Regions from separate parts of the Homo sapiens genome. Here regions 1 and 2 are each linked to region 3. Evidence: fine-mapped expression QTL. A gene starts in region 3. Each other region holds a variant in brackets. All regions are shown on one strand. Distances are between the middles of the regions.

Region 1 (2,749 bases), 41 kb before region 3:
TGGGCTCCTCACCTGCCTCCTCCTCCTCCAGCGCCTGCCCGCCCACCACCACCAGGACCTCCTCCAGCTTCTGCTGGAGGGCGAGTGGTGCCTGTGGGGTGGGAGGCCAGGGTCAGGGCAACAGCAATGTGTCCCCATGCCCTGAGCCCCCGCGTGTCCTGGGCAGGCCTCAGCATGTGAGTGCATGTGTGCTTGCATGTTGCTGGAGATGGCGTGTGCCCGAGTGCACAAGCTGCTCCCTCCTTGCACCATGTGCCTTTCAGGGGCATTCCTGGAGTTCCTGAACCATCTTCAGAACCGATCCCATAGCAGGTCCGCAGCGCCACGCATAAGCTTCTCCCTGCCCCTGCTCCCTGGGTGGCCTCCAGCAGGCGGCACGAGGGTGTCCCGGCTCAGTGGGAAATGCTGGCTGTCTTAGGAACGGCCGGTAAGCAGTCACTGCCTAGGTCTCCCAGGACCCCAGGCTCTCCCACAGCCATCCACCCTGGCCCCCCATATGGAACCCCCAGATCTCCCACTGCCAGGAATTAGAATACAAGGTGACCGTCCACGGGCAAGGCTCTGAAGCCAGCTCCAGCAGGAGGCCGGGCGCTCTGTGACTGGCTGGAATCCAGTGGGGACAGGGGTTAGGGTTTAGCCCACTACTCACTCCACCCTTGGCCTGAGGACCATCAGTCTGAGCCACTCTTTGTCCCCGGACTTGGCTCTAAAGGAGTGCCCCGAAGCAAGGCCCCTGAGCAGGGTGCCCGGCAGCTGACCGAACAGCCACTCCCAGACCTGTCATTCCATCATGACCTGCCATGCCTGCCAGGCACACTGCCAGCACAAACAGGAAGTAGCACCCCATAAAAGCTCAGGCGGACTGCCAGGCCTGTCTGTGCCTCCTTGCCTGTGCACAAGCTGCACCTCCTTCCTGGATGGTTTTCCCCTCTTTTCCTCCTTGTGAGCTCCTATCCCTCCTCTAAGGCCCAGCTCAGATGCTGCCTCCTCCAGAGAGCCCTCCTTGACTGCCAGCCCACCCAGAATGCGTCCTAGGCATGTATTTGGCCCTTCCACACTGCCTGAGGTCTGTTTCCAGGCTTGTCCCACTGAGCTGCAGGCTCCTTCAGGACAGGGCCAGATCTTACCACTTCCACATTCCCCTGCCCCTTGCACACAGGGCGTGACACACACAGAGGCATGATCTGCACTTGAGGGCTGAATAGTGATGTCCTCATGGGGAACTGGCCCAAAACAAGGAGCGTGGCAAGGTCAGAGTGCACCTTGGAATGTCCACTCCTTACTCTGTCCCTACTCAGGTGGGGTCTCTGGGGCTCTCCTCCCTGCTTCCCAGGGATGGGGCCTCCCAGCCGCTCACTCACCCCATCATGGCCCTGGGACAGGGCTGC[C/T]CGGCATGCCTCTGACTCCTGGATCAGGGGCTCTGAGGCCAGCAGTTGCTGCACGCAGGGCCTGGGCACGGCGTCCAGGTGCACTAGGCTGAGCAGCTCGGGCAGGTGGGCGGCCCGGGCCTGCGGGTCATGGCGCACCCAGCGCATCAGGGCCTCGAGTCGGCTTTGCTCCGGCTGTACCTGCAGCAGGTCGCCGGCCAGACAAGTGACCAGCCGCTCTCGGGGAAGCTGCAGGAACTCGTCCTCACGTGCCACAGCCTCAAAGTTCTCTCGCAGGAAGGCCCAGGCCTTGGCAGCCACGCCCAGCAGCCCTTGCTGCTCCCCGAACTCACAGATGCCCAGGCAGTTGGCGGCATCCAGTTGCTGCTGCAGGTAGCGGCCGCAGACCTTCTGCACCGAGGGGAAGTGCAGGCGCGCAGCCGTGCGTGTCAGCGCCTCCACGTTGCCCTGCGTGATGGTCAGCCGGCCTGTGTACACGAAGTCCACCAGTTGTCCCACCACGGCGGGCTCCACGTCCCGCAGCTCCACGCGCGCAGAGAAGCTCTCGGCGAAGTCACCCGCAAACATGGCATGGAAGTAGGGGCTGCTGAGCGCCAGGAGGCCGCGGTGGCATGGCAGCTCCCGGCCGCCCACCAGCAGTGTGACGTCGGCCAGCTTGGGCTGAGAGCGCAGGCGCTGCAGGCCATCCAGCATGTCCTGGGCATGCGAGGGCAGGTGGAAATCCAGGTCATCCACGTTCCGCACCATGACGCCGTGCCCAGGGGACCTCAGTAGTCCACCCACTCAAGGGAAGAAGTGCCTGGAGCCGCCCGAGCTCCTAGGAGAGAAGAGAGCAGGGTCAGCCAAGTGGGGATGGTCTCATCCTCCTGAGCAACCCACCCGGTCTGTCCATCAGCCCTTTCCACCCCTTGATAAACACAGGATGGGCATCGACCATATGCCAGTCACTTTACCCCCCATCTGCCTCAAGCCACCCCCAGAACCCTGCAAGGTAGGGCAGGTGTCATTCCCATTTGCAGTGAGGAAATTGAGGTTCAGAGAGGGTGGGAGACCTACCCATGGCCAGGCATTCAGGGCAGAACAGGGTTGGCAAAAGAACCCATGCCCTGGGTGTCATCTGCAACCCTGGGCTACACTGAGCCCACCCCCCAGGGACCCCGGAGACACCCAAACTCCCGGGAGGCGTCCTCCGTCCCAGATCCCACATTGCTGGGGAGGCCATTTGGGGGCTGCAGCAGCTCCTGCTCCCGCGGTGCTCCCAGGTGCCAGGCCACGTGCCAAGCATGCAGAGAAGCTGTGCATTCACCACTCAGCCCCACAACAGTCCTGGAGGGTGGGTGCAATCATTGCCTCTTTTACAG
Region 2 (2,749 bases), 29 kb before region 3:
CGTGATGCTGACCAGGGGCTCGGGCAGCAGGGCCTGCAGCTCAGCCGCCAACCGGCCCAGCTCACTCTCATACTCCTGACAGCGGCGCCGAAGCTGCAGGTCTGCAATCTGCTTCTCCAGGTAGACCAGGTCATCCTCTGTCAGCAGCTCCCCAAAGGGCCCCAGGATGGCCTGATGAGTCTGTGAGTACCTCCAGGCCGCCTGCTCCGTGGGGCCTGAGCTCCCACCATTGTCCTGGGCACAGGAAGGGCAGGGTGAGCAGGGTGAGCCCACCCACCCACCATCAGCCCACCTAGCTTCCAAGTCCCTGAGTTCTCAGTATCTCTGCAGAGCCTCTGGTCCTGCCCCAAGGTAAGACTTTAAAGGGCTTCCCAGCTAGGGCAGAAGCCCCTGACCTGCTCTGCCCGTCTTGCTCTGCTCTCAACCCTGTGGCTTTCAGCCCCTACGGCTCCCAGCCCAACAGGCAAGGACAGGCTGGGCCCTCAGACAGGGCTGTCCCACAGTCCTGAGACGATGGAGACAGGCTGTATTCCAGCAGCCAGGAGCCACCTGTGGCTACAGAAACGACAGGTGGCTGGTGCGACGGAGGGGCAGGACTTTTACTTTCCTTAAATTGTAATGAATTTCAGTGGCTGCATGTGGCTGGCAGGATTGCGCTGGACACAGCGCTGGGCCGGGGGCACAGAACTCAATCATCTTGACAAAATCATAGGACTCTGAGGACATAATTCCTGAACTCCTGTCTGCACAGCAGCCCGGGGAGCCTGTTAAAATCCAAGGCACATCACAGCCCTTCTCTGCTCAGATTCTCAGTGGCTCCCCACGGCCTCACAGAGGTGCAATAATCCCAGCCAGGTTCCTCTCCAACCTCAGGCGCCCACTCCATGCCAGGGCGCCTCCTCCTGCTCCTCCCCCGGCCAGCCCGGCCTCAGGACCCTTGCACTGGCTGTTCCCTCTGCCTAGGAGGTGCTTGCCCCAAATTCCCACAGGGCTCCCCCTCTCTTCCCTCTGGCCCCTGCTCAAGGCCACGTCCCCAGAGGGGGCCCCCTAAGCACCCATATATCATAGTCCCCCAACTGCTTTGCTTTCTCCACAGCAGTGGGAATCGCACCCCACACACCTGCCGGCACCTGCCCATGGGCCACCGTCTTCCCTGCTAGACGCTGCGCCCAGGAAGGCCTAGAACAACGCTTGGCACAGGCAGGCATGTGCCACAAATCCGCCAAGTGGAAGGATACGTGGGACCCATGCCTCCAGAGCAGGTGAAGGGGCTCTGCTCAGAGTCCTCTGGTCAGGTTCACTTCATCCTCCGGCGGAAGCAGCAGCTGAGGCCACAGAGGAGAGGGGCCCCTGGGTCTTGGATTCAG[T/C]TCTGGGCTTCGGGCGCCCTGACTTCCACTTCCACCTACCTGGAAAAGGCCCCGCCCCGCCCACTGGTCCCGCCCCTGCCGGGGGCCTACCTGGGCCTCTGCGGAGCTCTCTGCGCCCAGGCGCGCCTGCAGCTTCCGCACCATCACCTGCCGCTTCCACTCTGGGATGGGCTGGCCGCGCTCATCCCGCGTGGGCACCAGCCCGTCGATGTCGCCTGAGGGCAGCCCATCCAGCTGTAGTGCGGCCAGGCCATCTGAGGTGTCCCCCGCCAGCGCCGTCTCTGTCCCCTGTGCAGAAGGGGGTGGGTCACACAGGCCCGAAGGGGACCCAGGCCCTGAGTGGAGGGAAGATCCGAGAGGACGTGGGGGGTTGGCTCCGCCCAGGGCACGCTAACAGGGCGCCCTGAGAGGAGGGACAGTGGGGGCCACGGACAGCACCCCACCCCCTCATCCCCAGCTTAAGAGTGAGGCCTCAGAGGGGAGGGACTGGAGGGGGCGGGGTAAGATGTGTGTGAGGGGATTGTCGGCAGAGAAATGAAACCAGAGGTCCCTCCCCGTCCCCTGTGCAAGCCCAGCAGATGCTCGCGGAGCGCACCGTATCCCTGGGCAAACTTGCTCTGGGCACAGCTACATAGACAAAGCCTGGCAGCCAATCCTGTGCCGCGGAGGGCTTGTCAGAGCCTTCAATGTGCCGTGCGCGCTCCAGCTCTCCACGACGGGCAGCAGCGCCACGTGGCGTTTCCCAGACTCCCACCGAACACCTCAATGGTTGAGAATCTGCAGTACCACGCAGGGAAAGTCTGGGCTGGCTTTCTAAGGGCCCGGCGCCCAGGAAAGGGAGAGTAAGGGGGAGCAGGACCCTTCTGCTGGTCTGGGCTGGCCGAGGCCCTGAGGAGGAGGACGGTGGCAGCGGGGCCCTGCCCATGGATGGCTGCTGCGATCTCCGCACTCCAAGCGGGCACGGAGCACCCCTGAGCTCAGAGGTCAGGGAGAGGGGCCTGGGCCACTGCAGCCCTCTGGGATAACAGAGAAGGGTCCCCGTGTTTCTGTGGTGGGGGGGACAGCTGCCGTCGCCCTGACATTCCTGTCTCTTCAGAACTCAGGGTGTTCTCGAGAGCAGCGGAGTGACGCAGGCAGCCTGGCATCCACCCTTCAGGAAAGGCCTGGCTGTGCTGGGGGCTTCTCTGGGCCCCTAAGAGGATGGGAATGGAGGCTGGCTAGGGGCCCCGGGAGACAGGAATGCAGGGGTGGAGGACGAACCTCGGGGTCAGCCGTGGCACTGGTGATGATCCTCGGAGGGGCCGGGCTGGTCATCTGCTCCCTGGGAAGAGGCTGGTCAGGATGGCCAGGCCAGGCCGGGCTGAGGGACATGGCTGCCAAGA
Region 3 (2,749 bases):
AGCGTTCCTACCACAGGTGTCAGGGGTCCAGCAGACCTGGGCCTTCTCCAAGGGCCCTGTCAGAATGGATCCCCAGGCAGGCACAGCTCCCGCCTGCTGCCCTTGGGTTTGGCGGAAGGGCCGACAGGAACAGGATGCTGGGCCGGGACTCTCAGGTGCTCTGGCGAGCCAGGTGCTGGGGAACCTTCCCGCTCCGCAGTCTAAGCAGGCCCCACCGGCCCCCACCTCAACTCTGACCTCTGGGCGGCGGCGTTCTAAGGCCGGTCAGTCCTGCTCACCCTCAGCCCTGAAAGCTCCACAGGGCTGAGCGACAGCTCTAAGGGCCTCGCCTGCACAAAGGGGACTGGGCAGGCAGGATAGGGGAGGGGGGCCCAGTAGAAACGATCCGGACAAGACGATCACCATCAGCAGCCCTAACTCCCGTCCCCCAGGGCTAGGCTCCCAGCTCTCAAGCCCAAGTTCCCACAGTGCTTCTGTAAGGATCCCTTTCTAGACCCTTTGGGAGGCAGGCCCTGTGGACCAGGCCTGATCAGAGACAGGGGTCCTGATATCTGGCAAGACCCCCACTGGCAACGCCCAGCTTCCTGGCAGGGAAGGTGATAAGAAAATTTAGGAGGTGTTCTTGGCTCTCAAGCCTTTGTGCTCTGAGAGGCGTGGGGCAGAGACGGTAACCACTGACTGAGTCCCCAAGAGAAACAAAGGGCCCAGGGCCATGGAGCCCGGGGTGGCCAGTACTCTGATCCTCCGTGGCTCACACCTCCCTGGTTCCACCCCAGCCAGCTTCGTGGAGCCAGGCTGCCCCATCCCCGCTCACCTGCAGACCGCAGCCCCCCTCGCGGACCAGCCAGCACAGCTCGGCCAGGCTGCCCGTGGCAGCGGCGTCATGCGCTGGGGTGGCCCCGTTGTGGGCCCGCTGGTTGCCGGGCAGCTGGGCCCGCTGCACCAAGAACTTGACGCAGTCCAGGTGGCCAGCCCGGGTGGCGTGGTGAACCAGGCCGGCCCCCAGAGCATCGGTGATGCCCGGGCCCAGGGCGCCAGCCTCCAGCAGCCGCTCCAACGTCGCCACATCCCCATCCTTGGCGGCCACGAGTGCCCGCTGCTTCTCCATCCTCTGGCCCGGGCTCTCAGTGGCGACTCATGCACAGGCTGGGGCTTCCTGTTTCAGACGTGGATGAAGCTGCCGGCTCTGGTTACCCGATAAGCTGCCACAGGGCAGATGGGAGGCGGTGGGGTGGGGTCGGGTGGGGGGACAGGCCTTGAGGACCTGCCCAAGCCACTCCCACAGTGTGAGGGTGCCAGGTGCCTGGAGCTGGGAGGATGGAGTACAGGGCACAGGGAAAGGCCCACACCAGGCTAGGTCAGGGCTGGGTATGGCCAGCAGAGAAAGGAGGCTGGCCCTGAGGCTGCTCAGATCTGTCCAGATGGCAGGAACTTCATCTGTGGAGCGAGGGCTGAGGATACACGCCACTGAGCTTCTCACAGGAGCCCCGAGTGGCCTGGGAGACAGTTCCCCCAACTCTCACAGAAGGGCAGACCCCCAGCCGCCACCACAGTGTGTCTGAAGTAAAGGGTGCCCAGTAGGTCTACATGTTTGGCTGTGTTGACACCCACAGAGCTGAGCGCCCCGCCTCTGGGTCCCGGCCCTCGGCCCTGGAGGCTCCTAGGAATCTCTGGGGACACAGTGGCTCCACGGGGCCTGCAATGGGCTCAGGACCCTGACTTGGGTGTGTCCAGGCCTCTGAGGCGAGAAGGTGTCAGCCCCTGCCTCGGCCCCCTCTCCAACTACACGGACCAAGTCTCTGGGCTGCAGCCCCAAGGGCCCAAGTACATTTAACCCCTTTCCAGATTGTTCTGGACAATCCATAGTTCTTCTTTAGGGAAGTCAGGACCACCACAGCCTCTTCCTGGCAGCAATGGGAAGCTGCAGATGGGGGACCCATTACATTTGTAGGGGCTTCCGGAGACACAGCCTCAAGCTGGATTTCTGGGCTAACGCATCATCACACAATGGTGACCTGGGGGCTGCTGCACCCCTGGCTTCCCCCCGACAGGCTCTGTCAGATGACTTTGTGCCCAAGCGCAGTGCCCACTAGAGAAACCACAGGATCCCCAAGTCGGGCACTGAAATCTTTTATTCGTTAATTTAGTTTCTGGCAAGTGTTTCCTCAAAATCATCAAGTAGTTCCTTGAACCGTAAAACCACACATTAAAAATGTTATTCCACTGAAAATGACTCCTATGCAAATATCGACATGTGATGTGTGTCCAAATGCCAGAGCATTTTGAGAAAAGAATCCTCTGCAAATAAAATTAAGGTAAAAGCTGAGTCAGGGATGATCCGATTCCCACCCCAGGAATGACCTGGAGCTGCACCAACTCAGCGAGGTTGGAGCTGAAACCCTGAGTTAATAATGATCAAAAGGGACAAGACAGGAAGGCCTGGGGACCGTGGACAGGGAAGTGCGCAGCCCTGATTGCCAGTGGGCGGAACAGGGTCAGGCTCGGGGAAGCAGGAGGGGTGGTGGGCGGTGGGCGCTGAGCAGAGCAGGCCTGGCCGAGGCTGGGGGCCACTGTGCACTGAGGCCAGAGGAGCAGGGTGGTGGGGGCAGCTTTGGAAAGGGACTAAAAAGGGCCTGAGAAGAGACCACTCTGGAAAGGTGCATGTAGAGGCCATGATCAAAACAAAAAAATCAAGTTTCCTACGTTCATGATAGCATTTGGCTGACAATGAGTTATAAATACTTGGATT

The links.
Region 1: its variant is fine-mapped to the expression of ESPNL in skeletal muscle (GTEx, PIP 0.97).
Region 2: its variant is fine-mapped to the expression of ESPNL in stomach (GTEx, PIP 0.96).

What each region holds. Positions count from the first base shown.
Region 1 is chr2:238,140,141-238,142,889 of GRCh38, reverse strand. It overlaps KLHL30 (kelch like family member 30), which reads right to left. Exons shown (of 8, transcript NM_198582.4): 2 at 1,362-2,205; 3 at 1-91. The coding sequence starts at 2,135. Among named protein-coding and RNA genes, the nearest start is that of KLHL30, 2.8 kb to the right of the region's middle. RefSeq lists an enhancer at 1,453-1,966. The variant C/T (reference allele first, on the strand shown) is at 1,389.
Region 2 is chr2:238,127,613-238,130,361 of GRCh38, reverse strand. It overlaps ESPNL (espin like), which reads right to left. Exons shown (of 9, transcript NM_194312.4): 7 at 2,628-2,740; 8 at 1,458-1,655; 9 at 1-234. Among named protein-coding and RNA genes, the nearest start is that of KLHL30, 9.7 kb to the left of the region's middle. The variant T/C (reference allele first, on the strand shown) is at 1,368.
Region 3 is chr2:238,098,779-238,101,527 of GRCh38, reverse strand. It overlaps ESPNL (espin like), which reads right to left and starts at 1,188. Exons shown (of 9, transcript NM_194312.4): 1 at 815-1,188. The coding sequence starts at 1,108. It overlaps SCLY (selenocysteine lyase), which reads right to left. Exons shown (of 12, transcript NM_016510.7): 12 at 2,115-2,749. UBE2F-SCLY (UBE2F-SCLY readthrough (NMD candidate)) reads right to left here. Exons shown (of 19, transcript NR_037904.1): 19 at 2,115-2,749. RefSeq lists enhancers at 2,746-2,749, 2,675-2,749.